Regions from separate parts of the Homo sapiens genome. Here region 1 is linked to region 2. The links come from fine-mapping of genetic effects on gene expression. A gene starts in region 2. The other region holds a variant in brackets. All regions are shown on one strand. Distances are between the middles of the regions. Region 1 overlaps FAM193A (family with sequence similarity 193 member A). Region 2 holds the start of TNIP2 (TNFAIP3 interacting protein 2).

Region 1 (16,021 bases), 100 kb before region 2:
AGGGAGAACCCTGCACGGCAGTCAACACCAGAATGTCCCGGATCTGCCCCATGAGTCTTTTCCCTCCCTACCTGCAAAATGAGATAATTATGTTAGGTGATGTTTTAGTGTTGTGTGAGCTTTTAATTCCAAATAAGTTTTTTCTGTGTTATTTTTAAAAAGTAAAACTGGCCAGGTGCAGTGGCTCACACCTATAATTTCAGCACTTTGGGAGGCTAAGGTGGGAGGATCACTTGAGCCCAGGAGTTTGAGACCAGCCTGGGCAACATAGTGAGACCTTGTCTCTACAAAAAATTAAAAAATTAGCCAGGCTGGGTGCCGTGTGTTTGTGGTTCCGGCCACTCCAGAGAGTGAGTGGGGGAGGATCACTTAAGACCAAGAGTTAGAGGCTGCAGTGATCTATGATGGTGCCACTGCACTGCAGCCTGGGTGACAGAGTGAGACCCTGTCTGAAAAAAAAAAAAAAAAAGCCAGGCTTAGTGGCTCACACCTGTATTCCTAGCACTTTGGGAGGCTGAGGCAGGTGGATTACTTGAGCCCAGAAGTTTGAGATCAGCCTGGGTGACATAGATAGACCTTGTCTCTACAAAAATACAAAAATTAGCCTGCCATGGTAGTGTGCACTTGTGGTTTCAGCTACTCGGGAGGCTGAGATGGGAGGATCACTTGAGCCTAGGAGGTTGAGGCTGTGGTGAGCTATGATCATGCCACCACACTCCATCCTGGGCAACAGTGAGACCCTATCTCAAAAAATGAAAAAAATATATAGGCATAGGGACAGTAAATAGTCCCTGTGTTGGTATTGCACTGTGGGCTGCTGGTTACTGGGTGCCCCACAGAGCAGGGGTCCCTAACCCTTGGGTCACAGACCAGTACTAGTCCATGGCCTGTTAGGAACCAGGCTGCACAGCAGGAGGTGAGTGGCCGGTGAGCCAGTGAAGCCTGTCAGTGTTTATAGCCACTCCCTATTGCTTGCATTACCGCCTGAACTTCTCATGTCCGATCAGCAGAGACATTAGATCCTCACAGAAGCATGAACCCTATTGTGAACTGCGTGTGCAAGGGATCTAGATTGTACGCTCCTCATGAGAATCTAATGCCTGATGATCTGTCACTGTCTCCCATCACCCCTAGATGGGACCATCTAGTTGAAGGAAAACAAGCTCAGGGCTCCCACTAATTGTGCATTGTGGTGAGTTGTATAATTATTTCATTCTATATGACAGTGTAATAATAATAGAAACAAAGTGCACAATAAATGTGATGAGCTTGAATCATCCCAGAACCATCCCCTTGCCTCACCTGGTCTGTGGAAAAGTTGTCTTCCATGAAATCGGTCCCTGGTCCTAAAAAGGTTGGGGACCACTGCTCTAGAGCACATCCCATGGCACCCACGCAGGGTGGTTTATTGAGAGCACAGAAGGAGGGAGGAGCATGAGATCTCAGGCCATCAGTAGACACTGTGAAGGAAAGACCTTGAGAAGGAAAACAGAAGGCGAGGGGCCGGCTTTCCTGCCCGGCTCACTCTCGTCACCGGGGCTCAAGGGAACGAAGCGCACCTGCTCTGGCCTCACGGGTGCGGTAGGGGAAGCCAAGACCACCCTGGCTGGGGGCAGAGATGGGAGCTCAGGGCTCTGAAGCCCAGGGAGAGGCTGCTGTGCAGGGCGGGGTTTCAAGACTCCCAGAGAGGCTGCTTGTGGGAAGCACGTGAAAGGCTCCTTAATCCAAGAGTGTCTCTGTTGACGACATAGTGCCACCTGCTAAGTCTCTGTCTTGCCAACATGAGCTGCAGTCAAGTTGTATTGCATTAGGTCATTGAAACCTCCCAAGTGCATAGGACCCTGCCTACCTTTACCAAGGACCGCATAAAAAAAGAGGAGCCCCAAGCACCTTCTGGGTAGGCATGGATAGCCGCCCACGGTACACTCTAATGGCAGCAACGGTATTTGCCTTTGGCCCAGAGAACGCTGTCTCAGGGCCCTCCTCCACAGTCTTGTTAGTGTTTGTAGCAGTAACAGACGTGCAGATGGAGAAGCTGAGTGTTGGTGAATCCACTGGAGGGTGGCATCAGACCTGGAGGGGTGTGTGTATCAGTCCATTTTCACACTGCTATAAAGAACTACCTGAGACCGGGCTTGATACTCACCCCTGTAATCCCAGCACTTAGGGAGGCCAAGGTGGGCGGATCACCTGAGGTCGGGAGTTCAAGACCAGCCTGGCCAGCATGGAGAAACCCCGTCTCTACTAAAAATACAAAATTAGCCGAGCGTGGTGGCACATGCCTGTAATCTCACCTACTCAGGAGGCTGAGGCAGGAGAGTCACTTGAACCTGGGAGGCAGAGGTTGGGGTGAGCTGAGATCATGCCATTGCACTCCAGCCTAGGCAACAAGAGTGAAACTCTGTCTCAAAAAAAAACCAATAAAACAAAAAACCTACCTGATTCTGGGTAATTTATAAAGAACAGAGATTTCATTGATTCACAGTTCCGCATGGCTGGGGAGGCCTTAGGAAACTTATAATCATGGCGGAAGGAGAAGAAGAGGCAAGGCACGTCTTACACAGTGGCAGGAGAGAGAGAGCAAGAGGGGAAATGCCACACTTCTGAGCCATCACATCTTGTGAGAACTCGCTATCATGAGAACAGCATGGGGGAAATCCGCCCCCATGATCCCATCACCTCCCACCAGGTTCCTCCCCTGACATGTGGGGATTACAGTTTGACATGAGATTTGGGTGGGGACAAAGGTGAACCATATCAATGTGACAGGTTGACATGACGTCACGGCAGACGTGGAAGGTCCTGTAATCAGGGTGTGGTAGCAGCCTCGCTGCCTGTCCTCAGGACAGCTCTGACCAGACTGGATCCCCCTGGCAGGGAAGCATAAGAGGTTGCTGGCCTGAGTCGTCAAGAAGTGACCATTGTGAAGCAGACATTCAGCTCGTCCCAGACAGCCCCCAGGAGGAGAGTCCAGACCCCGTGTAGATGTGTGTGATCAGAAAGAGTCCCTTGCAAGGGTCGTTCGAAGGCAGAGTGGGCTGTAGTGTGGAGATGAGTTCCCCATGATAGGGAATGTGGAGAATAGTTGGAGAGGTATTTGGACTAGGTGACCATGAGGTCTCATCTCAGATTTCATTTCAGGGACACATCTGTCCCTGACTGGGGCTGGTGGCCTCTGTGCCTGGTATTCATTGTTTACCAGGGATTTGCAGAGTACCCTTCATGGGAGGCACTTGTCTGCAAGTCTAAGTGCAAATCAGCCTTGCCTGTCAACAAAGATGACTTGGGTGTGTCGGTGCTTCCTGTCCTGGTGTTGAACAGGAGACGCTGGCCTATTGCAGAGAAGCTTTGAGTCTGGAAGCTTTTCTGAATGGAACTCCCACCTCCCTTTCTCCTGCATTTGGTGTTTTTCTTCTGTAGGATTGATGCTGTTCACTTGATTTATCCCTGGTGTATTAGTCCATTCTTGCATTGCTATAAAGAAATACCTGAGACTGGATAATTTATAAAGAAAAGCAGTTTAATTGGCTCACGGTTCTGTGGCTGTGTAGGAAGCATGGCTGGGAGGCCTCGGGAAACTTACAATCATGGTGGAAGGTGAAGGGGAAGCCAGCACATCTTACGTGGCTGGAGTAGGAGGAAGGGGGGTGGGGAGGTGCTACACACTTTTAAACAACCAGATCTTCTGAGCACTCGCTATCACGAGAACAGCACCTTCGGGGAAATCTGCCCCCATGATCTGATCACCTCCCACCAGGCCCCATCTCCAACAATGGGGATTACAGTTTGACATGAGATTTGGGCGGGGACACAAATCTAAGCCATATCACCTGGCTTTCCCTTCATGTATCGATATAAGTTTCTGAGGTTGTGAATAACTTGTAACCTTCAGGTGACTTCAGAAAAATAGTATAGTTAGTGATAACATAGGGAAAAAGATGAAAGAGAAGGAAGATGAACCGTTACCGAGTGCTGTGCCAAACCCCGTGTGGCTAGAGCCTCACTACTGCTTCCTGGTGTTACCACATCTGCAGATGACAGGAGGCTCCCGAGGGTCTCAGCCAGGCAGGCCTGTTGGGGTTTAGGTCAGCGGTGTCCTACGTAGCATAACATCCTGCCCCTAAGAGCCTGGGGTGCTGTCCTTAGTTCCACATGTGATGGAAATGGCAGATAAAGTTCTAGTTTCAGAGATTCATTTCTCCAATTGAACTGTAACTAAACACAAAAATGCCCTTAGGGAAATTCTTTTACTAAGACTGAAAAATCCTTTGGGAATAGTAATTTCTTCAGGTATCTGTTTCTTGAAGGTAAACATTTATTTTGAAATATTATATATGGTATTATTGCTGTTGTTCTAGGGAAAATGGTATATATGTAAAAATAACACATACATGTTCTCTCTAGGGAGAAAATAACAGTGTCACTTAAAAAGTAAAGTGTATTTCTTTAAAATTGCATGTTACATTGCTTTTACAAAGAGAAAACCAGTCTCTTCACTAAAGCAACCAGAAGATGCTTTTTATTTTTATTTATTTTTTTTTAGACAGAGTCTCTCTCTGTCACCAGGCTGGAGTGCAGTGGTGTGATCTTGGCTCACTGCAACCTCTGCCTCCTGGGTTCAAGCAATTCTCCTGCCTCAGCCTCCCGAGTAGTAGGGACTACAGGCGCCCGCCACCACGCCCGGCTAATTTTTGTATTTGTAGTAGAGACAAGGTTTCACCCTGTTGGCCAGGATGGTCTAGATCTCTTGACCTCATCATCCACCCACCTCAGCCTCCCAAAGTGCTGGGATTACAGGCGTGAGCCACCATGCCCAGCCAGGAGATGCATTTTTATTTTCACTGTCTTGTGAAGAAACCATGAGAAACAATCTGCCACTAATACAATTGAGGGAAATTGAGCCACTTTAGTAACATCCAGAGAATAATAGTCATTCTGGAACCATGTATGCATGGGTGGGAGGTTGTGGGGAGCTGAAAACAACAGAAATTTATGCTCACAGTTCTTGAGGCCAGAAGTTCAGAATCAGTATGTCAGCAGGGCTATGTTCCCCTGAAGGCTTTGGGGGCAACTGCAGTGACCCCTGGAGTTCTTGGTTTGTGGCCACTCCACTCTCCACTGGAGCTGTTTTAATGCACTATTTAATTTAAAACCTTTGAATGAACATTGGTTGCTTCTAATCAATAACATTTTAGAAATTTTATACTGATTCAAAGGCTTTAAAATGTTGAATACGTGTAAAATAATTGAGTCTCTGTTCACAAATAAGTATGTATGTATGTGGCAAGAGAGTTGGTAGGTTTTGTTTGTTTGTTTGAGATGGAGTCTTACTCTCTCAACTAGGCGGTGGTGTCATCTCAGCTCACTGCAACCTCTGCCTGCTGGGCTCAAGCAGCCCTCCCACCTCAGCCTCCAGAGTAGCTGGGATCACAGCGCACACCACCATGCCTGGCTAATTTTTTTTTTTTTTTTTTTTTTTGTATTTTTGGTAGAGACGGGGTTTCACCGTGTTGCCCAGGCTGGAAGTTTGAAATCAATTATTTTTATGTTTGCTGTCTGAAATTCATTCTTTCTCTGTTGTTTGACACATACATAAGCCTGCAGGTACCCAAATTTGTTCCAAAAAAAAAAAAATTTCCCTGAGGCTGTGAGGAGAGAGTCAAGGAAGAGGTTTTTATTGATGTTATTTATCAAACAACTCTTACACTGTACACTAAGATTTTATAATAACTGCAGACATATACAATGAAAAGGGAGAATTGGCACCAATATTGAATCTTCCCATCCAAGAATATGGTATGTCACTCTTTTTTAAGGTTTTTAAAAATATATTGTATTATGGTTTTATAGTTTGTAAATCTTGACCCATTTTGTGCCTCCATAGTCTGTAGTTTGAGGGGCTGCTATGACCGGCATCTTGAGTGGGGAATGTGTGTTTAAAGCATTCATGCTGGAAACTGGGAAAATGGAGATGCCCTGTGACCAGTCATCTCGCCAGATGCCGGCATTAACTCTTGTAGTTTTTGAGTTGAGTCTTGAATCTGGGAGTCTAGGAAATCACGGTATCTTCTACAAATAATGATAGGTTTATCTCATCTTTTCCAGCATTTGTCCCCTTTTTTTGGCTTCCACTAGGACCTTCAGACCAGTGTGAATAAGAGCATTGATACTGGCACCCTTGTCCAGTCCTGGCTTCGAGGGGCTGCTGTGAGTGTTTCACCATGAAGTTTGATGCTTGCCATACAGACTTTTGATACTTTCTAGCAAATTAAAGAAGTTTACCTTTATTTCTAGTTGATTTAGGCTATCATTTAAAAAATAAAACAGGAAGATGTCAAAATTGATGGTATGATTTTTCTTATATCAATTTCTGTATGAGTTAAGAGTTTAGGTTACCTAATTTTGAGACATTCTTGCGTTCCTGGGATGAAACCCTAGTAGATCATGATATGTCATTCTTTATTCCATTATTAAATTTATTAGCTGATATTTGATTTAGGACGTGTGTGTGTGTGCGTGTGCGCCTGTGTGTGTGTGTGTGTGTATTCGGACAGCTATATAAAATTATTTTTAGAGACAGGGTTTCACACTGCTGGCCAGGCTGGAGTGCAATGACAAGATATTAGTTCTCTGCAGCCTCGAACTCCTGGGCTCAAGCTCTCCTCCCACTTCAGCCTCCTGAGTAGCTAGGACCATAGGCACATGCCAGTGTGCCAGCTAAGTTTTGGCTTGGTGCAGTGGCTCACAGCTGTAATCCCAGCACTTTGGGAGGCCAAAGCAGAAGGATCGCTTGAGCCCAGGAGTTTGAG[G/A]CCAACCTGGGCAACATAGGGAGAACCCCATCTCTACAAGGAAAAAAAAATTAGCCAGGTGTGGTGGTGTGTGCCTGTGGTCCTAGCTACTTGGGAGGCTGAGGTGGGAGGATCATAGGCCCAGGAGGTTGAGGCTACAGTAAGTTGTGATCATACCACTGTAGTCCAGCCTTGGTGACAGAGCAAGAGACCTTGTCTCAAAGATAATTTTATTTACAAACAAATGAAATTTTTTGTAGCGGTGGGGGTCTTGCCTTGTTACCTAGACTGTTCTCAAATTCCTGGCCTCAAGTGATCCTCCTGCTTTGGCCTACCAAAGTGCTGGGATTACAGGTGTGAGCCACTGCATCCAGCCAGGACTTTTATATCTATATTCTGAGGTATAATTGAGTTGTCTTGGTCTTTGAGGTCTTACTTGTTTTGTATAAAGGTTGTGCTAGCTTCATAGAATGAATTGAGAAACTCTGTGTTTTTGCAATTTTCAGGAATAGTTTAAATTTTCTGTCCCATGAAGGGTTTGATAGAACCTACCGTAAAACTTTGGGGCCTAATTCATTTTTACAGGGAAGAAGAACAAGAACTATAGATCTTGTCTGCCTTTTTCATTTATATGACATTTATTAGTGTATTTCAGGTTTCCTTCTCCCTCGAGTCAGTTTTACAAATAGAATTTGGCTCAAGAAGTTATCCATATCGTTTAGTAAAGGGTTGTAAACTCACACCTGCAGGGCTAGGGAAAGTCACGGAAATGGATGATACAGGGTAGAGCGGCCCCAGCGTTCCTGTGGTGCTCATGGCCGTCACCACCCTCACCTTGAAAGTGCCCTCAGTTGGGATAGGCCCTAGTGGAGCCTGGGGCATGGGTAGCGAAGGCCACACCTGTGTGTGCGTGCGTGTGTCCTCCTGTTCTCTGTTAGGGGCAGTCCCCACTTGGGTCCAACAGTCTTCACAGGGCCACCAGAGCTGCCAGGTTGTCAAGAGAAGCCAGAAATCTGGATTATTAGGTGAAATCTCGAACACTTTTAAAAAGAGGTGAAGTGCAAGTCGGACAAAATAGCCCATGAGCCCCTTGTTTGTAACTCTTCTTTAGATGTTACAAAGTATCAACTTATAAAGAGACTTTGTCTCACAGTTTAAAAACAATCTTCTGGCCAGGCGGGCACAGTGGCTCACGCTTATAATCCCAGCACTTTGGGAGGCCGAGGCAGGTGGATCACTTGAGGCCAGGAGTTCCAGACCAGCCTGGCCAACATGGTGAAACACCGTCTCTAGTAAAAATAGAAAAATGAGCTGGGCGTGGTGGCGGGCACCTATAATCCCAGCTAACTCAGGAGGCTGAAGCACAAGAATCGCTTGAACCCAGGAGGCAGAGGTTGCATTGAGCCGAGATTGTGCCACTGCACTCCAGCTTGGGTGATATAGCGAGACTCAGTCTCAAAAACAAAACAAAACAATCTTCATATGTACCCATATCCTTTCTCAATCCTGATTTTTTTTTAATGTTACCTTTTTCCCCCTTTTTCAGCCTTGACAGAAGCTTACAGAACCGACTTTCGGTTTTATTAATCACATATGCTTCTCTGTTTCCTCAGTAATTTCTCTTTTTGCCTTTAACTCCTAACTTCTTTGTTAGTTTTGTTTTGCTTTGCTTTTTAAGTCTCATATGCCTGTTAATAGCTCTTCCTTTCCTGTAGTCTGAGCTCTTCGTGTGGCAGGACCGAGTTGCCATCATCTTGCTTATTTCTAACACATTCAGGGCACATAATGGGCATTCAGTAAATAGTGAATGTTCATCCACTGTATTGACAGATTTAGTCAGAATATCTTGATTTCTCTTTTTACTGTTTATTCATCTCTGTCTTTCATGTGAGAAAAGTACTTGTGATGAGTTTGAGTAAAATAAAGAAATACCTGTTAACATATTTGTAGTATTGTATCTTTATTCTGTTTGCAGATGATGTTTCTCTCATATATATCATTTTAAGAAAGTCTCCTCTTGAAAATGTCTTGTATAATTGTCGCAGGTATTAAAGTTTTTCTTTTTTTTCTGTTTTTTACATCCCCTTACTAGATGACAATGAAAACCAAGCAGCGCATGTTAACAGAAGACTGGGAGCTTTTTAAACAAAGAAGATTCATTGAAGAACAGGTAAGCTTGTCAATAAGAGAGGCAATTAAAGGAAGTAGAAATCTGTCCTGACAGCAAATGACTTCTCTGCATGTTGATGTGCTTTGTTAGAACAGCATTGGAGGACCACATTGGCATGTTTTGCCAGCGTTAAAAACTGTTCAAGATGGTGTTTTTAATCTCAAGATAAACTAATTTTCACCTATTTCCTTATCTTCCATATACGCCTCAAGAAAAACCCATGTGTATTGAGTGGCCTCTCTATCCCACAGCAGCTCTGGGTATTTTGCAAAGGATATTACCTGAGTCCCCACAGTCCCCTATGAGGCAGATGGTGCCATCTGCAGTTTACATATGAAGGAGGGTGTTAGGGTGAGGTTAAGGATGTTGCCTGATGTCCCAGAGCTGGAATGGGGGCCCAGCATCCCCAGACAGAGCGCTCAGATCTCCAGACATTGCCAGGTGCCATGCCTTCAACATGGCAGCTGGCAGATCTGGACTCTCCCTTCCTCATCTTCCTGGCGGTGCCTCCTCCAGGCAGGCTTGTGCTCCACCTTTGCTGGAGCTGTTGGGCAGAGCTTGCTAGTGATGTCCTGTATCTGGTCTGGGGGCCCTTGGCTTCATCTGGAAACTTGGCTTCCCCTGATCTCCCATCCACGTGCCACATCGACTCTCTTCCTGTTCTCTGACACTTCTCTCCATCTCCTTTACGAACTCCAACTTCATTGGTCTTTCTGCAAATATTGGTGGTTCCCTGGCCTTGACCCCATGCCTGTCTCCACATTTGCATGCCCGTGGTCTCCTCTGGGCACCACAGGTATACAGATGGCACCAGTGTTGTGGCATGCTTACCTCTTCCCTTTCCCCATTCTGCATGTGTCCCTGTGCTTTTGTTGTTGTTGTTGTTTTGAGACAAAGTCTCACTCTGTCGTCCAGGCTGAAGTGCAGTGGCGTGAACTCGGCTCACTGCAACCTCTGCCTCCCGGGTTCAAGCGGTACTCGTGTCTCAGCCTCCTGAGTAGCTGGGATTACAGGTGCCAGCCACCACGCCTGGCTAATTTTTGTATTTTTAGTAGAGATGGGGTTTCACCATGTTGGCCAGGCTGGTCTCAAACTCCTGACCTCAGGTGATCCGCCTGCCTCTGCCTCCCAAGGTGCTGGGATTACAGGCGTGAGCCACCTTTCCCGGCCATCCCGTCCTTTTGAGTGGCCCTTCCAGCTGCCACCTGTCCCATTGCCAGAGTGGGTCCAGAGTTCCTTCTCCTTTGAAATGCAGATGCTCACCTTGTCTGTTAGAAGTTGAGGTGCCATTTCCTCAATAGCTCCGAGGCCGACCCCTTGCCCTCCACGTGCCACTTTTCATTCCTACAGCTCTGTTCTCAGTACCTTGCAAGTACCAAGCACATGGCAGACAGGGTAAAGGCCGGGTTTCTGCATCAGGTGTGTGCTGTGAGGGCGCACTGCAGCATGTTTGCTGAAGACAAAAGCGATTAGGGTCTCCTGGTACCCGAGCCCTTTGCAGCTCAGCCCCCAGCTTGCTGCCGACTCCAGGTCTGCTGCCCCTGTATTCCTGGTCCTGTCCCGCTGAGGAAGCAGTGCCCGTGAACATGATACATGTCAGCAGAATTACTGAAAAATAATGAGCCATGTCTCGGGGAAGGGTCTTGCAAGATTAAAGCATTTTAAAATTTCCTCTAGTTAACCAATAAGAAAGCAGTTACTGGCGAGAACAACTTCACAGACACCATGAGGCACATGTTATCGTCCCGGCTGAGCATGCCCGACTGCCCCAACTGCAACTACAGGAGAAGGTAAGGCTGGGTTGTGGTGTCAGCACGACTGGCCCATTGGACCTTCACTGGGCTGAGTGGAGGCCTAGAACCGACCCTTAGAGAGCATGGTCTAGTCTTGTGCATTGGTTGGCTTGGTAACTGTCCTTAATTCCTGATCAGATGTGCTTGCGATGACTGCAGTCTCTCACACATCCTCACGTGTGGTATCATGGACCCCCCCGTCACTGATGACATCCACATTCACCAGCTCCCACTTCAAGTGGATCCTGCTCCTGACTATCTTGCTGAGAGGAGCCCGCCCAGTGTGTCATCTGCAAGCTCGGGGTCCGGCTCCAGCTCTCCCATCACAATTCAGCAGCACCCCAGGCTCATCCTCACAGACAGTGGCTCGGCACCAACTTTGTAAGTTGTGACTTTGTAATAAAGTTTCCGAAATTTAAGTCGCCCCAGTAATGAGAAATACATACAGTAATGTCCACAGAAGTATGAACATCATTATTGTGCTTTTCATGACAAGGGACCCTGAGGTTTTTAATGCAGCTTTTAAAACATGAAATCAGTAAACCCAAACTTTTAACACTGTTTATCTGGGAAAAAAAAAACATGGTAAATTAATAAAGGCCAGTAAAGAAAAAACATGTTGGTATGCAGAGAAGAAGTGTCTCTAATTCCGGCCTCACATCTCCTCATTCTCCTAAAGGGTGACCAGTCCGCCGTCTGTCCTGTCTCCCTGTCAGCCCAGCACTCATGCTTGTTTCATGTCTTGCTAAGAACTCAGGTGATCGCTTTAGCAAGCAGTTGAAGGTTTCTGTTTTTCATGTTCCCGCATGATTAGAAGTACATTGTTGTGCAGCTGTCACCAATTCACATTGTAGTTGGCTGTTCCCAGATTTCTTCAGAGTTGTGACCCTGTCATTTGGGGAGGCTTCACATGCTAATTTCCAAAAGGGTTGCACTTGATCATATGTAGTTGCCAAAGTCAGCTTAGGTTTAGTTTACGTGTATCGTAGAGCACACAGGCATCATGTTCCATGTGGAAGTGTGCAGTGGGAGAGATTGTTGTTCCTGACCTTGGCTATGCAGCGTTTCTGGGATTTCTCTGACCAACTGACTTGTGTTCATTCCTTCTGTCTGGATTTCTCATGGTGACTGACGTTTTCCTTCAGTCTTTCCATTTTCAATTTGGGCTTGTTCTCAGACAAAATAATTCTGAAAGGACTGGTTTAAACTCACTGACTCTCTTCATACAAAGATTGCAGGCTGCTGTTTATTGCCTTAGAGACACTGTGTACTCTCCAGGGCACAAGAAAGAGTGTTGACATTTTTGCAGCTGGCTGTTATCCAACTTCTTACTGAAACATAAAAATTAAACATATATAGCCTAATGAAAATTTAAGATGGAAAATTTCATCCCTGTTCATTTGTCACAGCTGCTGATGTCAGTTATGGTCTCTTGTGTCACGTGTGGTAGTGGAAGAAATTGGCTGTGGGAGCCTTTCTCCTTGGGCCGGAACTGCCCATCACCAGTTACGGGGAGCCTAGGTTCTCGGGACATCTGGGCCTTCAGCAGCTTGTGATCAATGTCTTCCAAATGTAAACTATGATTTGAAAATCTCCAGTGTTATCTTTTCATTTGTATTGTCTCTTTCTTGGTGCCTTTTCTAAGTTGGTTAAAAAGAACAATGTGATTGTAGTCAGTGTACCACACAGTACTTCCTGGATCTTATGGGTTGGATCTTTACGGAGCTAGGGCTGGTGAAGCCTCCTGCTGTCACATGGAGCAAATGGCTGAGTTACTTCACTAGAACCTCAGTTTTCTCATCTGTAAATTGTGCCTATGGTCATCCTCAGGAGTGTGTATGAGCATTGGCCCAGGCAGCGTCCCAGGTGCAGTGGGCCTGCAGGAAGCCCTAGGACTCTGCACCTTGTGGGTGCTGTTTGTACTTACCTCTGGTGAGCTCCAGACTCTAGCACGTTACTTGTAATGTGTTGAAAAGACACCGGAATTTGGTAGTCCTGGACACTCTTCACTCATTCTAGGAAGTGAGATCACGACGAGTTCCTAGGGTTTTGCCTTCTGGAGGTTGCTGTGTGCCCAGGCTGAAGATGGACTCAGTGCATGTTTTTGTGGACCTTGGAGCATCTTATTGCACTGAGCTTAAATGTGCCAGCTCTTTTAATGCACCAGAGCTGCATCTTAAGTGGTCTCTGTAGGCTAAAGCCTTGAAATCTGTTTAAAATTAATTTCAGGCCGGGTGCAGTGGCTGATGCCTGTAATCCCAGCACTTTGGGAGGCCGAGGCGGGCGGATCACGAGGTCAGGGGATTGAGACTATCCTGGCTAACACAGTGAAACCCCATCTCTACTAAAAATACAAAAAATCAGCCGGGCGTGGTGGCGGGTGCTTGTAGTCCCAGCTACTCGGGAGGCTGAGGCAGGGGAATGGCGTGAACCTGGGGGGTGGAGCTTGCAGTGAGCCGAGATTGTGCCACTGTACTCCAGCCTGGGAGACAGAGCAAGACACTGCCTCAAAAAAATAATAAAATAAAATAAAATTAATTTCAGTAAATTTTTCATTTGCCTGTTGCTTAGATGTCTTGCTAAAGCTGATATTTAATTACGATCATGAGTGACCAGGCCATGACTGGCCTTAAAGCAAAAAAAATTAGTCTTCTGTTACATAAGTGCCTTTAAAGTTTTGTTCAACTGACTATTTCTGAAAATTTCAGCCCTAAGTTGAAAAAGCAAACACTAAACAGCTAAGGTTTAAAAAGCAAACACTAAACACCTAAGGTTGCCATCGGTACCCCTTTAATTTTAATCACAAATTGTGTTGTCTTGGGAGTAGCAGAGAGACTAGTTTTATACCAGCGCTCTTCAGGTCAAATGGAAACGTTAATCAGTCTGGTTAAATTTTTGTAGTTTCCTTAATATTTCTACTTTTGGAGGTTTTTCTGTTTGTTTTTTGTTTTTTACTCTTCCAAATGGCACAAATGTTAATCTTCCAAGCATTTTTCTCATGTTGAGGTTACTAAGAAATGTTAGTGGTAGGAATGATACTTAACTAATACTCTTTGTAAATGAAAGCCGTGATCTGTCCAGGAAATATCTGTGCTTAGTGGCTGGTTTACTCATTGTCTTTCACAATTGAATGACCTCACAGTGACCATCTCTGCTTGTGTCAGTTGTAGTGATGATGAAGATGTTGCACCATTGTCAGCCAAATTTGCTGATATTTATCCATTGAGTAATTATGATGATACCGAGGTGGTGGCCAACATGAATGGAATCCACAGCGAATTGAATGGTGGCGGGGAAAACATGGCCCTGAAGGATGAGGTATGGACATGGCTTCTTCGTAGCAACAATAAATGACATAAAATGATGGTCTGACATTTTAATATTTTATATTACTCTGTTTTGAAAAGTGCAAATTACAAAAGATTGTCTTTAAAGTCTCCTCAGATAAGCAGTACCAGCAGTAGTTCCTCAGAAGCTGATGATGAAGAAGCGGACGGCGAGAGTAGTGGGGAGCCCCCAGGGGCCCCGAAGGAAGATGGAGTGCTGGGAAGCAGGAGCCCCAGGACAGAGGAGAGCAAAGCAGACAGTCCACCCCCATCCTACCCAACACAGCAGGTAGGACTTTGCTTGCTGTTTTGCCAAGGATCTCTTTTTCTGTGTGTATTTTCTCTAAACATGAGCATTACTGAATACAAAATTATTTTGTTTCCCATAATTTCTGAAGGTTAGAACTGAAGAGAGTCAAGGCATACTTACAATCTCCATTTGAATCTTGTTTTTCTTGCTCGAATATCAATCTTGATTTCGCAACACCCCATAGCAGCTCTGTGGAGGCCTTTTTTGTCTGTATAGAAGCAAAGAGAGGAGTTAAAAAAAAATAGTGGAATATTAAAATTTCAGGAAAGGTTTGTTTTTCCTGTTCATTATCTGTTCTTCTGTTAGCCAAAGGTGAGGGTACCTTATTAGCTTTTTTTCTCAGAATTTCATAAATAGATGCTTAAACAAGTTTTTGGCCGGGCGCAGTGGCTCACGCCTGTAATCCCAGCACTTTGGGAGGCCAAGGTGGGTGGATCAGTTGAGGCCAGGAATCCAAGACCAGGCTGGCCAACATGGCAAAACCCCGTCTCTACTAAAAATACAAAAATTAGCTGGGCATGGTGGTGGGCACCTATAATCCCAGCTACTTGGGAGGCTGAGGCACAAGAATTGCTTGAACCTGGGAGGCAGAGGTTGCAGTGAGCCAAGATTGCGCCACTGCACTTCAGCCTGGGCGACAAAGCAAGACTCTGTTTAAAAAATAATAATAACAACAATAATAATAAGCAGTCTTTAAATGAAAGAACAAATGAAGGTCAAAGTGCTTGGCTGATTTATTTTATTAGGTAATATAAATGTAACACTCAGATGGTAAAGGTGATGTTGAAAGGTCTATCTGGGAAGTCTGACCACATCTCCTTACCAGTTTTTTCTTCTACGTATAATGTTTTTGATGTCTTATCCAAGAAAACTTTGCCTAACACAAAACTGTTTTCTTTTAGAAGATTTATAATTTTAGTTCTTAGATTCTGTTTGACTCAGCATTTAGTTATTGTGAGGTGAGGATATAAATTCACCTTTTCTGCATATATAGATATCCAATTGTTTCAGTACGGTTTGTCAGAAGTACCCTATTGAATTGCCTTGGCCATTTATTGAAAATTTATTGAAAATCAATGGACTGTAAATGTAAGAGTTTATATTTGGACATTCCATTCTGTTCATTTGATCTCTGTGTCTGTCCTTACACCCATAGTGCATTTGACAATTGCTTTATGGTAAGTTTAGGAAAATGGGATAGGGTCTTCCCTCCAGCTTGGTACACCTTTCTCTCTCTCTATTTTCTTTCTTTTTTTTTTTTTTTTTTTTTTTTTTGAGATGGAGTCTCCCTCTGTCACCCAGGCTGGAGTGCAGTGGCGCGATCTCGCCTCACTGCAACCTCTCCCTTTCGGGTTCAAGCAATTCTGCCTCAGCCTCCCAAGTATCTGGGACTACAGGTGCACGCCACCACGCCCGGCTAATTTTTTGTATTTTTAGTAGAGACGGGGTTTCACTATATTGGCCAGGCTGGTCTCGAACTCCTGACCTTGTGATCCGCCCGTGTTGGCCTCCCAAAGTCCTGGGATTACAAGCGTGAGCCACTGCACCCGGCTGGTACACCCTTTTCAAAATCGTTTATGCTGCTCAAAGTTCTTTGCATTCCCATATAAATTTTAGGATCTACTTGTCAACTA
Region 2 (16,021 bases):
AGAAGGGTCCAGCCTCTGTGTCTAGTACTTGAGGTAAGAAGGGACAGAGACCGGGAACCTAGAATGTTCTCATCACAATGGAACAAAATACTAAGCCCTATTACTGCGAGAACCCTGATTATTATTATTATTATTATTATTATTATTATTATTTTATTATTTTAGAGACAGGGTCTCGCCCTGACACCGAGGCTGCAATACAGTGGTATAATCACAGCTCACCGAAGCCTTGAACTCCTGGGTCCAAGTGTTCCTCCCGTCTCAACCTCCCAAATAGCTGGGACCATGGGCTCGAGGTCAAGGCTGCAGTGTGCTGTGACGGTGCCACTGCACTCTAGCCTGGGTGACAGTGAGACCCTCTTCAGGGATAAAGGACTTTGAGCAAAACCTGACTTCTGGTTTTTTTTTTTTTTGATAAAGACAGGGTGTGGCTATGTTGCCTAGGCTGGTCTTGAACTCCTGGCCTCAAGCAATCCTCCTCCTGCCTCAGCAGGGGTCACCGTGCCCAGGTAAAATCTGATTTCGGAGCCTCCTTCCTGCGTTGGTCAAATGCTGACAGTAGGAGAAACAAACAGCTCCACAAACAGGAGGGCAGCATGTCCACAGCTCGTAGATCCTGAGGGCGTGGCTCTCTCTTGCCTCCACACCCTAGTACTCAACACTGAGCCCAGCCCCACACAGATGCCCAGTAAATGGGAATAAGACTGGGCCATACAGAGACAGATCAGGACGCAGGCTCTACGCTCAACCCGTGGGGGCAGGCCAGCCCTGCAAAGGGCTGCCCCACTCATCCTCCCCTCGGCAGCATGAGGGCCCCAGGACCCCTCCAGCCCCCGGGCTTCTGGCATTTGTCACTGGCTCTGAAGTTGCAGAGCTTTGTGCTGGTTTATCTGTCTGAGTGCCTTGTCCAGTTAGTAACAGTTCTTAGGACACAACAGCACCTCGACCACTGTGGTCAGAAAACAAGGTACGAGCTGGAGTTGTGGGTCTACACACACAGGCACAACACACAGACTAGTCAGCAACTGGGCTGACATCTCTCAGGAAAGCCTGTCGCCGGGACCCACAACTCCATAGCTCCACGCTCAGAACACAAAAGTGTAAACAGCTCTATTAATAGTCTTGTGGATTGGCCTTAAGAGGCACAGTGGCCTCTTGGCTTTTAGCGCTGCGGCAACAAAGTATCACAAACTTGGTGTCTTAAACAACAGAAGTGTATTCTCCCAAAGCCTGTAATCCCAGCACTTTGGGAGGCCGAGGTGGGAGGATCACTTGAGCCCAAGGGTTGGGACTAGCCTGGGCAACATGGCGAGACCTTGTCTCTACAAAAAATACAAAAAACATTAGCCAGGCATGGTGGTGGGCGTTTGTAGTCCCAGCTACTCGGGAGGCTGAGACAGGAGGATCACTTAAGCCCAGGAGGTCAAGGCTGCAGTGAGCTATGATCATGCTACTGCACTCCAGCCTGGGCAACAGAGTGACCCTGTCAAAAAGAGGGGAGGGGAGGGGAGGAGAAAGGAAGAAAGAAAGGAACAAGGAAGGTGGCCCGGGGCGGTGGCTCATGCCTGCAATCCCAGCACTTTGGGAGGCTGAGGTGGGTGGATCACGAGGTCAGGAGTTCAAGACCAGCCTGGCCAACATGGTGAAACCCCGCCTCTACTAAAGATACAAAAAATTAGCCAGGCGTGCTGGTGGGCGCCTGTAGTCCCAGCTACCCAGGAGGCTGAGGCAGGAGAATCGCTTGAACCCGGGAGGTGGAGGTTGCACTGAGCCAAGATCCCGCCACTGCACTCCAGCCTGGCGACAGAGCAAGACTCAGTTTAAAAAAAAAAAAAAAGGAACAAGGAAGGAAAGAAAGAAAAGAAGAGAAGAGAAAAGAAAAGAAAGAGCCAAGAAAACAAGCAAAGCAAAGCTAAGCTAAGCCGGAAGGGAAAGGGGGCTGATACGCCAGGACCAGGCAAAGCCTATGAAGCTGGTCCCGAGAATGGTGACAGGATGGGGTTGGGCAGGACCAGGTTGCACAATGAATTGGTGCCATTATTCCAGAAAGTATTAACTGGAGGGGCTTTGTAAAGTTATCCACTCAGGCCTTGTGTTACAGATGAGGTAAGGTCTCAAGTCCAGCTGTGGCTGCACTGAGGACCACAATTCTCTGGCCTGATCTTGCCCCATCACACACTGACCGCAGCTTGATCACAGACGCACTGGTCAGCTCCTCCACATTCTGAGCCTCAGCACTCTCTCTGGGAGCCCTCAGTCCCTACTGGTCCAGGGTTCCTGCTCCTAACGGGCTCTCATAGATGAGAGCAACCTAGCAACGGCTTGCTTCCTGCTGTGTCTTTAACTCTGCACTGCCACCTCAGTGAACCCAGGGCCTGCAGGAGGTGACAAACCTCTCCATTCTTCCACAGGTTCCATGACCGACCTCAGATTGAACGTTGGGATGAGCAATAAATATGTAATTGCATAAAATACCAGATAAGGCCAGCACAGTGGCTCACGCCTGTAATACCAGCACTTTGAGAGGCCGAGACAGGAGGATCCCTGGAGGCCAGGAGTTTGAGACCAGCTTGGGCAACATCATGCGACCCCTTCTCTACAAAAACTTAAGAAGTTAGCCAGGTGTGGTGGCTCATAGTCCTTGTGGTAGGCTCTTCGCCTATAGTCCTAGACACTCGGGAGGCTGTGATGGGAGGGCTGGTTGAGCCCAGGAGTTCAAGGTTACAGTGAGCTATGATGGCCCCAAGGCATTCCAGCCTAGGTGGCAGTGTCACAGACCAAGACCCTGTCTCTAAAAAAATAAAAATAAAAATAAAAAAACAAACAAACAAAACTAAATCATTAAAATGTTCCTTAAATAATTAAAAATCCCCCCATGCTGGGCGTGGTGGCTCATGCCTGTAATCCTAGCACTTTGGGAGGCCAAGGCAGGAGGATCACTTGAAGAAAGGAGTTCTAGACCAGCCTGGGCGACACAGCAAGATCCCGTCTCTACAAAAAAAAAATAAAATTAGCCAGGTGTGATGGCACACTCCTGTGGTCCCAGCTATATGGGAGGCTGAGGCAGGAGGATCACGTAAGCCCAGGAGGTTGAGGCCACAGTGAGCCATGTTTGTGCCACTGCACTCCAGCCTGGGTAACAGAGTGAGACCCTGTCTCAAAAAAATAAAAAAATAAAAATCCCAAAACAAAACCTACATGCTTACATGTTGGGAAGACAGGACCAGGGCCAGTAATACTGGGAACACAGAACTAATTCTATCTGAGGCTACCAGGAAGCTGCAATAAGCTGCTTGGTGAGTGGCCAGATACACAGGACACCAGGGAACACATGTGAGCGGAACACCAATGGCCACCGACTGCAAGTATACTGCTCTGGTTGTGAGGTCCCTGCATCCTGTCCCACCAACATTCTGGAGATGACTTCGGAGTGTCCTTCCGGGTCCTTGGTCTGTACTCATCTGTGGCTCCTGGCATCCACAACTCTAAAACCTGTTGGTGCAGACCAGGTGACCTCTAAACTTCCCTTCTGCTCTAGTGAGTCAGGATGTACCTTCCAGAAAGAGGGAGAGAGTGGAGTAGGGGAGACACTGGCTGCTGAAAGTATTTTAAATGATGTAGATACTGACAACCTAATATTAAGTACAACTGTATACACAGCATGAAAACAACCATGCCAAGTGTACACACACCTTATACACAGAGGAAAAACAGGAAGAAGGCATGCCAAGAGATTAACACTAGTCATCCCTGCACTGTGGGACTACAGCGGCTATTTTATTCTTTATTTTTCAGATATTCAAAATTGTTTTATAATTTTTTTTCTTTTTTAAAAAGGGCATGTTTCTTTTTCTCTCTAAAATCAGGCTGTGGGGCCAACCCTGGAGACAAAAACTATCTTTCGCAGACTACTGCCTTTGCAGGCTTAGTTTCTTTCCTGGGCAAACTAGGATAATAGCCATGAATCAAATGGAATAATAGATGCCAGAGCTCACCCGAATGTTTCAGATGCTTGCAAATACTATTGCACAAAAAAACTGTTACTTATACTGCTGTTGTGGTGTTATAGTTTATCATCAAAAAACAGACATAAACATCATAGACAAGGACAAAGAGAAGAAAGTCAGGATTTGCGTCTTTTTTTGTTTGTTTTTGAGACGGAGTCTCGCTCTGTCGCCCAGGCTGGAGTGCAGTGGCACAATCTCGGCTCACTGCAAGCTCCGCCGCCCGGGTTCATGCCATTCTCCTGCCTCCGCCTCCCAAGTAGCTGGGACTACAGGCGCCCGCCACCACGCCCAGCTAATTTTTTGTATTTTTAGTAGAGATGGGTTTTCACCATGTTAGCCAGGATGGTCTCAATCTCCTGACCTCGTGATCCGCCGCCTTGGCCTCCCAAAGTGCTGGGATTACAGGCATGAGCCACCGCGTCCGGACCCTTGTGTCCATTTTTAATTTAATTTTTTCAGACAAGGTCTCACTTTGTCACCCAGGTTGGAGTGCAGTGGTGCGATCTTGGCTCACTGCAACCTCTGCCTCCCAGGCTCAAGTGATCCTCCCACCTAAGTCTCCCTAGTGGCTGGGAGCACGGGCACGTGCCACCATGCCCGGCTAATTTTTTGCACTTTTTGTAGACAGGGTTTCACCATGTTGCTCAGCCTTGTCTCGAACTCCTGGGCTCAGGCAATCTGCCCGCCTTGCCTCCGAAAGTACTGGGATTACAGGCGTGAGCCACTGCACCCAGCCTAGGATTTGTGTCCTTTATCAGACACGGGCTGCATTTGCCATTGCTCCCAGCATAGAGTTGAAGCGCCACTAGTGAAAGACACATGCATGGGTGAGGGCTGGAAGGGACTCTAGAACACAATATGAGTACACGACCTTGGACCCAAGACACACATGTGTGCGTACACACACACACCATACACACCCCTCAGAATGTGTCTCCCGCACACACACCTCAAAACACCCCTAAGAACCAACCGGAACATACACACTACACAATACACACAGAATACACACAGCATACACACACCCCCCTCGGAATGTGTTCCCACACACGAACCTCAAAATACCCCTAAGAGCCCACCTGAACATACACCACACACACACAGAACCCAAGAACTGCACCAACCCCCCTCCTCAGAACCCAGTGCCTCCTCACCATCCCCCAGGACCCAGTGCCCTCCCAACCCCCCAGGATCCAGCATTCGCTTATCCCCTTCAGAACCTTGCACCCTCACCCCGCAGGACCCAGAGCCCCCTCACCTCCACCAGCACCTGGTGACGCCTCAAACCCCCCAGGACCCAGCACACCTCAGCCCGTGGTGTCCCCTTATCCCACTCAGGACCTGGTCCCCCTCTCTCCCCTAGGACCCAGGGTCCCCTCACCCCCCAGAAGCTGTTGCCCTATCACCCCCAGGACCCGACGGCCCCTTACCCCCAGGACCTAGTGTCCCTCAACCCCAGGACCCGGCACCCCCTCAACCCCCAGGACCTGATGCTCCCCCAACCCCTCAGGAGCCGGGGCCCCCTCACCCCCAGGACCCGGCACCCCCTCAACTCCCAGGACCTGGTGCTCCCCCAACCCCTCAGGACCCGAGGCCAACTCAACCCCAGGACCCAGTACCCCCTCAACCCCTCAGGACCCGGGGCCCGCTCGCTCACCCACCCAGGACCCGGCGGCCGCCACACGCACTCTCGCTCCCGCAGCTCCTCTGGTACCCGCCCTCGTACCTGGCGCATCTGGGCCTCGGCGGCGCCGCCCTCCTGCCTTCGCAGCTGCTCCCGGAAGCGCGCAACCTGCTCCAGCAGCGCGTCCACTAGGGACGGCGCGGCGTCCCCCTCCAGCGCGGCCAGGCGGGCGCGGAGGCGAGCGATGAGGGCGTCGCGGGCAGCGAGCTGGTCCTGCAGGCGGCGCAGCCGCTGTCCGGCCTCGTGGTACAGGGTGCAGAGCGCGGCAGCTGCGCGCGGGGCCTCCTCCCAGCCGCCCGACCCCGGGTCCCGGGACATGGCTGTAGGCCCGCCCGGGAGGCCGCGCGGCCGCCGGCAACTTCCGCGCCCGGGCCCCGCCGGCTGCCGCCCTTCCCGGAACTTTCCCCGGTGCGCCCCGCCCACCCACAACAGCCCGGCCCCGCCCTCCCCCACGCAGCCCCGCCCCCCGCGCAGCCCCGCCCTTCCCCGCGCAGCCCCGCCCGACGGCAGCCCGCCCAGCCCCTTCTCGCCCGGCCCCACCCCTCCCACCGCCTACAGCCCGGCCCCGCCCCTGCCGTCCGCACCCGTCCGGGAGAGTTGGCCTGGCCCCCGAGGCTGTCCACACCCCAGCTGGTGCTGGGCTTATTCCAGTGGCCCCAAACATCCGCCTCTGAGGAGTTGTCGGAGAGTCGAACTCAGCCCAGGAGTTTGGGGATTCATCAGCCTCTGATGGAAAGGAAGGGCTTAACGACAACCCCCAAGCTCTGGAGCTAAGTGTGGGTCTGAATCTCCCCGCGAGGGTCCAGGCCTTGCGGCCACAGCAGCAACAGAAGCTCCAGGAGCTGAGCTCGCAGCGCACCAAGCACGTGGCATGTGTTCCGTCACCTGGGGACACTGAGCCCAGAAAGAGCTCCAACCCCCTGCCCCGCACGCCGCTTTCTTTTTTCTTTCCTTTTTTTTCTTCTTTTTGAGACGGAGTTTCGCTCTGTTGCCCAGGCTGGAGTGTAATGGCGCGATCTCGGCTCACTACAACCTCCGCCTCCCAGTTTCAAGCGATTCTCCTGCCTCAGCCTCCTGAGTAGCTGGGATTACAGGCGCCCGCCACCATGCCCTGCTAATTTTTTGGTATTATTAGTAGAGATGGTGTTTCACCATGTTGGCCAGGCTGGTCTTGAACTCCTGACCTCAGGTAGATCCACCGGCCTCAGCCTCCCAAAGTGCTGGGATTACAGGCGTCAGCCACTGCAGACGCTGCTTTGTAAGGTGGCTAGTATGGGCCCACGGGACAACCTTCCTGCTAGATGCTGTTCTTATATAGCAGAAGCAGCAGGAAACCAGCCCCTTCCCACCCTTTCGCTTTTCCATCCCTTTCCTTCCCCAAAATTCCCAGACAAACGCTAGTGTTTTTCCACAGCCCAGTCTTCCCCACAATGATGCCCAAGCACACATGGGGTCTTTCCAAGGTTCCCTACTCAGGATAGGGCAGGGGTCTTCCCTGTGTGTGCACTTGCCCACAGGCTCCGCCCCTGAGCAGCTTCTTGACTTTCTTCCCTTATGTGATCCACAGCCAAGCCTGAGCTGAGCCTGGGAAAACACAAGCTTGTAGAATCAGACAAGCCTATAAGCAAAGCCAGAGCCACCCAAGTGCTTATGGCCCGGACATTGGGCTACACAGGCCTGGCTTTGCTATGGAAGGCTCCTTCTTACTCATCAGAGCCTGGGCTTCCTCTCAGCAGAAGGAAGGGCAGAGCGAGTGCCCACCCTACCTGGTTGGGCTGTTGTGGGGACTAGAGGGTGGAGTGTGCATGGAATGCTTGTCCAGTGCAGTGGCTGCTGCACAGCAAGCCTACAGTCCCCATGGCTATGGTTACAAACAATGCCTATTGATTGTCTGGGGCATGAGTGGAAAAAACAAAACTGGACCCAGAGCTGTTAGAGGCTAATGTGTGGCCTGGGGCACGTCATTCCAGTGACCTACCTTGAGCCTCTGCCTCAACTGTAAAAGGTGCATGTGACAATCCACAGTCTCTCATCCAACAACAGCCTTGGGGTCAGGTGTGGTGTATTGTATTGTATTGTACTGTACTGTATCGTATTGATTTATTTTAGACGGAGTCTCAATCTGTCGCCCAGGCTGGAGTGCAGTGGTGTGATTTTTGGCTCATTGCAACCTCCGCCTCCCAGGTTCAAGTGATTCTCCCACCTCAGCCTCCCAATTAGCTGGGATTACAGGCGCCCGCCACCACGCCTGGCTAATTTTTTGTATTTTAGTAGAGACGGGGTTTCACCATATTGGTCAGGCTGGTCTCGAACTCCCGGCCTCAAGTGATCCGCCTGCCTCGGCCTCCCAAAGTGCTGGGATTGTAGGCGTGAGCCACCACGCCAGGCCGCCATGTGTATTTTAGAAATGAGGATCTTTGGATTTCAAATAGGTACATATAACTGGGGGAGCCAGCTTTCAAAGAGGATCCCCTCCTTCCAATATCCATGCTCCTGTGTAGTCCCCTCCAATCCACTGGAGAGGGCTGACCTGGGTAACTAAGAGGGTACTGCAGAAATGATGGAGTGTGACTTCTGCAGCTAGCTCCCACAAGACATCACGGCTACTGCCTTGCCCTCTTTCGGAGCATTCTCTCTGGGGGAAGCCACCCACCCTATCATCAAGTAACCCTGTGAAGAGGTCCATGTGGCAAGGAACTGAGGCTTCATGGCAGCAGCCGGCGCCCACTTGCCCACTGTGGTGAAGAAGCCACTTTGGGACTGTATCCTCCGACCCTAGTCAAGCCTTCAGAAGACAGTAGCCCCCACTGACATACTGACTGTGACTCCATGGAAGACCCCGGGCCAGGACCGCCCAGCTAAACTGCTCTGAGTCCCTGACCACAGAAACTGGATGAGATAATATATGCTTATTGTTTTAAGCTACTAACATTTGGGATAGTTTGTTCTGCAGCAATGGAAAATGAACAGCTAAAATCTGACTTAGTGCTCCCACTGGGACATGGTACAGCACCACAAAACCAGACAGATTACAATTTCTGCAAAGACAGGGTGACCATTCAGACTGCGAGATGAATGAAGATCAGAAAAAGCCTTGTAGCTGTTGAAGTCAGATTTTGTACCACCTTTAAGAAAAACATTTTGGGGCCAGGTGCAGTGGCTCATGCCTGTAATCCCAGCACTTAGGGAGGCCAAGGCAGGAGGATCTCTTGAGCCCAGAAGTTGGAGCCCAGCCTGGGCAACATAGCAAAACCCCATCTCTACAAAAAGTTAAAAGAAACTAGGTGGGTGTGATGGTGTGTGCCAGTAGTCCCAGATACTCAGGAGGCTGAGATAGGATTGCTTGAGGCAGGGGTTTGAGGCTGCAGTAAATGGTGATTGTGCCACTGCTCTCCAGCCTGGGCCACACAGTGAGACCCTGTCTCTGAGAAAAAAAAGAAAGAAAGAAAACTATTTTGGGTTTCTGAGCTTTTTAGATTTCAGAATTGCGGATGAGGGATCCCAGACCTCCAAGAACACTTGTCTTAGAGGGTGTTGTAAATATTCAGTAAGGTCACATGGGAAGTGCCCAGCATGCTCTTGCCTTCAATGCAAATTTAGGTACTGGGCCAGGCACTGGGGACTCATGTGTGGACATTGTAATAGTGGAGACAGATCCTTTTCCAAAACAAGAATAATTGCAACGTAAGGAAATTTTGTGTAAGGAAAGGAAGGGGAAAATGTGTATAAGAAAACAACAGGCTGGGTGCGGTGGCTCACACCTGTAATCCCAGCACTTTGGGAGACCAAGGCAGGCAGGACTCCTGAGGTCAGGAGTTCGAGACCACTCTGGCCAACATGGTGAAACCCTGTCTCTACTAAAAATACAAAAATTAGCCAGGCATGGTGGCGGGTGCCTGTAACCCCAGCTAGTCGGGAGGCTGAGGCAGGAGAATCGCTTGAACCCGGGAGGCAGAGGTTGCAGTGAGCCAAGATAGCGCCATTGCACTCCATCCTGGGTGACACAGCGAGACTCCCTCTCAAAAAAAAAAAAAAAAAAAAAAAAAAGGAGGAACCTAACTTTAAAGAGGGTGATTAGAGACAAGATAACAGTCCAGCTCTGCAACCTAAAGGGTGAGAAGGAGCCAGGCATGAGAGTTGGCTGAGTGAGTTCACAACTGGGTATGGCCTAGAGTTGGGCAGGAGCTGATACAGGGAGCAATTTCTTTCTTTTCCTTCCCTCCCTCCCTCCCTCCCTCTTTCTTTCCGCATTCTCTTTCTTTGTTTCTTTCGAGACAGCATTTCACTCTGTCACTCAAGCTGGAGTGCAATGCTGCGATCTCAGCTGCAACCTCTGCCTCCTGGGTTCAAGTGATTCTCCTTCCTCAGCCTCCTGAGTAGCTGGGATTACAGGCACGTGCCACCATGCCTGGTTAATTTTTGTATTTTTAGTAGAGATGGGGTTTCACCATGTTGGCCAGGCTGGTATCAAACTCCTGACTTCAAGTGATCTGCCTGCCTTGGCCTCCCAAAATGCTGGGATTACAGGCGTGAGCCACCGCGCCCAGCCAGCATTCACTTTCTGTGTTCTGAAACTCATCTAGATTTGTGCAGGATGGGGCTAGTGCAGCAGGCCTAGTGTGTTCAACCCTGCATGTTCCAAAAAAGGGACTGGCCCTAGACCTTTTGGAATATCCCACCTGATAAGAGTGTCTTTGCTTATGTGGGGGCCTTGGACCACACCAGCTAGTCTAAGCTAACTTGAGGCCTTGGGTCATGAGCTTGAGCTCTGAAGGAGCTGGAGACCGAGTAACTCAGGTCAGCCATATGGGCACTCCCCGCCTATGTGATCAACCCCTAACCACAGCTCTGGACACAAAGTCTCAGGTGAGCTTCCCAGTTTGGCAACACTCCCAGTACTGTTGGGAGAGCGATATCCTGTGGGTACTTGCACCTGGTCTCCCCGCCGGGCCCGCTCTATGTGCCTTATTTTTCCTTTGCCGATTTTCTTCTGTGTCCTTTTGCTGTAATGAATAACTGTGAGTCCTTCTACTGAATCGTCAAACCTGAGGACTGTCTTGACAACAGGGCTTTTTGCAGCAAATGTGTATTTGTGCTAGATGGACTGTTGCTCCCAGCTTTTTACCACCTCCCGCCACGCCCTTTTGCCGTGTGACTTTGGGCACCTGCCCTGGAGTAGACCAAGTCTGTCCCCACCTGCTCGAGGCTGCATGGCCAGTGGATATCAGCAGAGATCATGCAAGAGAAGGCCTAATGCGAGACACCAGCACCCCAGAGCAGCAAAGCCCTGGGTAGCTACTAATCCCAGAATGGGTGGGTAGAGTAAACGTGAGCCCCACCCACAGATGAAGCTGCTGAGGCCTGCGTGGTCCACTGGCCCTGCTGTTTTCAGACCCATCTGCACCCCTTTCTCCGGCTCACTGTAGACCAGTCATTCTGAAAGAGCCCATGAAAAACACCAAGTTCTCTCCTGCCTCAGGACTTTGTACCTGCTGCTTCAGTGCCTGGAATACTGACTCCTTCCCATGAAAAACACCAAGTTCTCTCCTGCCTCAGGACTTTGTACCTGCTGCTTCAGTGCCTGGAATACTGACTCCTTCCCATGAAAAACACCAAGTTCTCTCCTGCCTCAGGACTTTGTGCCTGCTGCTTCAGTGCCTGGAATACTCATTCCTTCCATTGTTTGCACAAGCACCGCCAGGGGGTGGGGCTCACAGAGGCGCACTGCGGCAGGAACTGGATGTGGGTGTCAAGGTGGTCACAGAACAGACGGCTGGGTCAGCTCCCCAAGGAGAAGCCCTGAGCTGCCCAACAGGTCCCTCTTAGGCCCCACACTTCAGAGGCAGGGCTGCCACGCATGCCTCCTGGATCACCTCTTGGTGTCCCATGGCCCCTGTGGGGCTCCTACCTGGCACATCCTCACCTCCAGGCTCCCCCGGCTCCAACTCAGCAGGGAGGTGGGAGGTTGACGGGAGCAGGCAGGCATGGGAGGGCTCAGCCGGGGTATGAGGGGTGGGCAGAGTCCCCCCACCTGGCTCACCCTTTCTCTTCCTCTCCTCCTCTGGGCACCTTCTTTGACTCCCACAGGCTCCTAGCTCAGACCTCTCCACTCTTCCTGGCTTTCCTTCAGGGAGGTCAGGAAAGTCAGGGACCCGTGGATAAAGACCAGGAGAACACAATGTAAGTATCTGGGCAAAGAACCTCTTAGGCAGAGGGCTTGGCGAGTGCAGAGCCCCAGGGACCTGTGCAGGGCCTGATCAAGACCCTTGGAGGAGTCCAGGGGTGGCTAGAGTGCAGCAAGCAGGGGAGGGACTGGAGTAGCCATAGAAGGGACCAGGACAGACTGAGCCCCAAACGTCCCCCTTGCCTGGCCCAGCCCATGTGTTTCCGGTATTGGTGGGTTCTTGGTCTCACTGACTTCAAGAATGAAGCTGTGGACCCTGGCAATGAGTGTTACAGCTCTTAAAGGCAGCGTGTCCGGAGTTTGTTCCTTCTGATGTTCAGATGTGTTCGGAGTTTTTTCCTTCTGGTGGGGTTCGTGGTCTCACTGGCTCAGGAGTGAAGCTGCGGACCTTCGCGGTGAGTGTCACAACTCTTAAGGTGGTGCGTCTGGAGTTGTTCGTTCCTCCCGGTGGGTTCGCGGTCTCACTGGCTTCAAGAGTGAAGCTGCAGACCTTCAACAAATGAGTGTTACAGCTCGTAAACACGGTGTGGACCCAAAGACTAAAAGAACAAAGCTTCCACAATGTGGTAAGGGTACCCCAGCGGGTTGCCGCTCCTGGCTCGGGCAGCCTTCTTTTATTCTCTTATCTGACCCCACCCACATCCTGCTGATTGGTAGAGCCGAGTGGTCTGTTTTCACAGGGTGCTGATTGGTGTGTTTACAATCCCTGAGCTAGACACAAAGGTTCTTCACGTCCCCGCCAGATTAGCTAGATACATTGTCGATTGGTGCATTCACAAACCCTGAGCTAGACACAGGGTGCTGATTGGTGTGTTTACGAACCTTGAGCTAGATACAGAGTACCGATTGGTGAATTTACAATCCCTTAGCTAGACATAAAGGTTCTCCACGTCCCCACCAGACTCAGGAGCCCAGCTGGCTTCACCCAGTGAATGTGGAGCTGCCTGCCAGTCCCGCACCGTGCACCCGCACTCCTCAGCCCTTGGGTGGTTGATGGGACTAGGCGCCGTGGAGCGGGGGCGGCGCTCGTCAGGGAGGCTCGGGCTGCACAGGAGCCCACGGAGGAGCGGGGGAGGCTCAGGCATGGCGGGCTGCAGGTTCCGAGCCCCGCCCCGCGGGAATGCAGCTAAGGCCCGGCGAGAAATTGAGCACAGCAGCTGCTGGCCCAGGTGCTAAGCCCCTCACTGCCTGTGGCCGGTGGGGCCGGCTGGCTGCTCCGAGTGCAGGGTCCGCCGAGCCCACGAACCCCACCAGAAGGAAGAAACTCTGAACACGTCCGAACATCAGAAGGAACAAACTCCAGACACACCGCCTTTAAGAACTGTAACACCGCGAGGGTCCGCGGCTTCATTCCTGAAGTCAGTGAGATCAAGAACCCACCAATTCCGGACACACATGGGGATGCTAGGCCAAAACCCGTAAGAGCCGGCCGGCCTCCAGGAGGGGCAGGGGTCTTCCCCTACACAGGGGTCCCGGCTCAGGGCCGCTGCCCTTCCCCGCAGCTCCAGTGCCCCGGGACCTTGGGAAATCATCCTGCTCTTTGTCCTGACCTGAGCCAATGCATTTGCCTTGTCGAGCCCTTAGGAGCAGAAAAGCGTAGGCGAGCAGCTGGCAGCCACCATCGCATTTGCTCCCGGAAGGCAAGAGGAGGCAGAGAAAATTCCAGAACCCATTTAAGCGTCTGGGACCCTGAGGTAACCATGAGCTACTGGCAGGCCGGGGGACACAGCGGGTACAGAAGGGGTCTCTGGAGTTTCGTGAGGAAGTATTCGGGCTGTGCGGCGCCGCGACCCTGGCAGGACGCTGCTGTCCCGCCAGCGAAAGCGGGGCGCGCTCAGGGCTGCGGGCAGCGGGGGTGCAGCGGGGAGAGCCAGGGCCTGGGCGCGGAGGAGGGGCTGGTATGGGACCCTCCGGGTGGGCGCGGCCCCGCGGGGCCTTGCGGCCACACCGCCACCGTGCCCAGCGGCCCCATCAGCGCATATTCAGGATGAACCCCGGACACGCGCCCAGAACCGTCTGGTGACCCAGTGATGAAAGCTCGAATCTTATAGGATCCGTATTCATTTCCCGTGGGCTCAAGCCCAGCCTCCGCGGGCGGCGCGGGCCCTCGCGGCGAGTGTCCACGAGGAGGCGGTGTGGACCCGCGGCCCCAGACCAGGCCTCAGGCAGAAGGCGAGCGCGAGCGCCCCGCCCAGCCCCTCCCCGTCCCGCAACCCGCGCCCCGACCAGCGCCCCCAGCACCTCTCCACCCTCGCTCTCGAGCAGTCTCCACGTTTGTCTCAGAGGAGACCCACTTTGCTCCCCAGCGTGGGCCCCTGAGCGCTGGGGGAAGTTGGTTGGTTTGTTAATGACAGAGTCTCGCTCTGTTGCCCAGGCTGGAGTGCAATGGTGCAATCTCAGCTCACTGCAACCTCCGTCTCCCGGGTTCAAGCGATTCTCCTGCCTCAGCCTCCCGAGTAGCTGGAATTACAGTGCACGCCACTACGCCCGGCTAATTTTTGTATTTTTAGCAGTGACGGGGTTTTGCCATGTTGGCCAGGCTGGTCTTTTTTTTTTTTTTTTTAAACTAGATGTTTCCTTTATTCATTCACACACTTAAGTAACATAGACTTATAATTTGTAACAAATAGAACAGAGGTTACACATATAAGACAAAAATCTTGAGTTTGAAAACTTTATTATCTGGCTGTTTTGTCAACATGATAATTTCATATACAACCACGTAAAAACATCTCTGGTGTTTAGATTTTTCCGTTTATTCTAGCTGTTTCATATTTGTAGACGTAGCCATGGCATGTACAGAATATGCATAGCAACAGGACTTTCATATAATATAGTACAGTTGGAAAAAAACACTATCTTGCTAGGGAGATATGTCAAGTAGATTCTAGTTTCCACATTATTTTGATTTTACTGTATTTAACTTTGTATATATTTTACATGTATTAAATGTTTTGATGAAACATTTCAAACTCTATATTAGAAATGTTGGCAAACATTAGTATCTATAAAATATAATCTGTATATATTGTATAATCTGGATATAAATATCCAGAAATCTGTCATATTTTTATACCAATTACAATGGTCAAAGTTGACACTATTCTTAAATATACTTAATGATTATCTGGATTATCTCCATATCTATTTTTGGCCCTCTTTTGCCATCCATACGTGAAGTATAATGATCCTTATTCTTTATGGCATTTTTTTTTTTTTTTTGACGGAGTCTGGCTCTGTCACCCAGGCCAGAGTGTGCAGTGGCGTGATCTTGGCTCACTGCAAGCTCCACCTCCTGGGTTCACGCTATTCTCCTGCCTCAGCCTCCTGAGTAGCTGGGACTACAGGCGCCCGCCACTACACCCGGCTAATTTTTTGTATTTTTAGTAGAGACGGGGTTTCAGCACGTTAGCCAGGATGGTCCCGATCTCCTGACCTCGTGATCTGCCCGCCTCGGCCTCCCAAAGTGCTGGGATTACAGGCATGAGCCACCGCGCCTGGCCCCTATTTTTATTTTTTGAGACAAGGTCTGGCTTTGTCGCCCACACTGGAGGGAGTGGTGTCATCTCGGCTTACTGCAACCTCTACCTCCCAGGATCAAGCAATCCTCCCACCTCAGCCTCCTGAGTAGCTGGGACTACAGGTGTGTTCCACGACACCAGGCTAATTTTTGTATTTTTTATAGAGATGGCGGCGGGGGTGGGGTGCACCTCACTATGTTGCCCAGGCTGGTCTTTAACTCCTGGGCTCAAGTGATCCTCCTGCCTCAGCCTCCTAAAGTGCTGGGATTACAGGTGTGAGCCACCGCCTGGCCTCCGTAATTCTTTTACTTCCTCAATGCTAGGCCTCAGAGAGCATCCCGGCCACCCTATGGGAGAAAACTTTGTTCTGAATCCCCTTAGCTCAGTCGTCCTGTGCAGCCAGGTCAAGCACAGCTCATGCCTCCTGGACTAGCGGGGTTTGGAGAACTTGCTCCTTTTCCTGGAGGGCCAAGAGGGATGGCAGTGCTATGGCAGGGGCCAGGGCAGTGTTAACAGGACCTCTGAGCACAGATGCACAGAGGGTCAAGGAGGGAGATTTCTGGGGAAAGAGCATTCCAGGCCGAGGGAACAGCCCATGGAGAGGCCCAGAGGCAGGGGTGTGTTT

Evidence for each region. PIP is the estimated chance that this variant, and not a neighbour inherited with it, causes the effect. A credible set is the group of variants that fine-mapping cannot tell apart.
Region 1: its variant is the best candidate, but not a certain one, in a credible set for the expression of TNIP2 in whole blood (TOPMed, PIP 0.52).

Annotation. Positions count from the first base shown.
Region 1 is chr4:2,648,923-2,664,943 of GRCh38, forward strand. FAM193A (family with sequence similarity 193 member A) reads left to right here. Exons shown (of 21, transcript NM_001366318.2): 8 at 8,881-8,958; 9 at 10,636-10,748; 10 at 10,890-11,132; 11 at 13,916-14,069; 12 at 14,187-14,366. Among named protein-coding and RNA genes, the nearest start is that of TNIP2, 99 kb to the right of the region's middle. RefSeq lists enhancers at 9,598-10,099, 10,100-10,599. The variant G/A (reference allele first, on the strand shown) is at 6,810.
Region 2 is chr4:2,750,281-2,766,301 of GRCh38, forward strand. TNIP2 (TNFAIP3 interacting protein 2) reads right to left here and starts at 6,056. Exons shown (of 6, transcript NM_024309.4): 1 at 5,734-6,056. The coding sequence starts at 6,009. It overlaps LOC102723763 (a long non-coding RNA gene), which reads left to right and starts at 11,452. Exons shown (of 3, transcript XR_001741552.2): 1 at 11,452-11,871; 2 at 13,460-13,569. RefSeq lists silencers at 5,599-5,658, 5,679-6,198, 6,379-6,518, 13,691-14,240 and enhancers at 11,304-12,128, 12,932-13,500.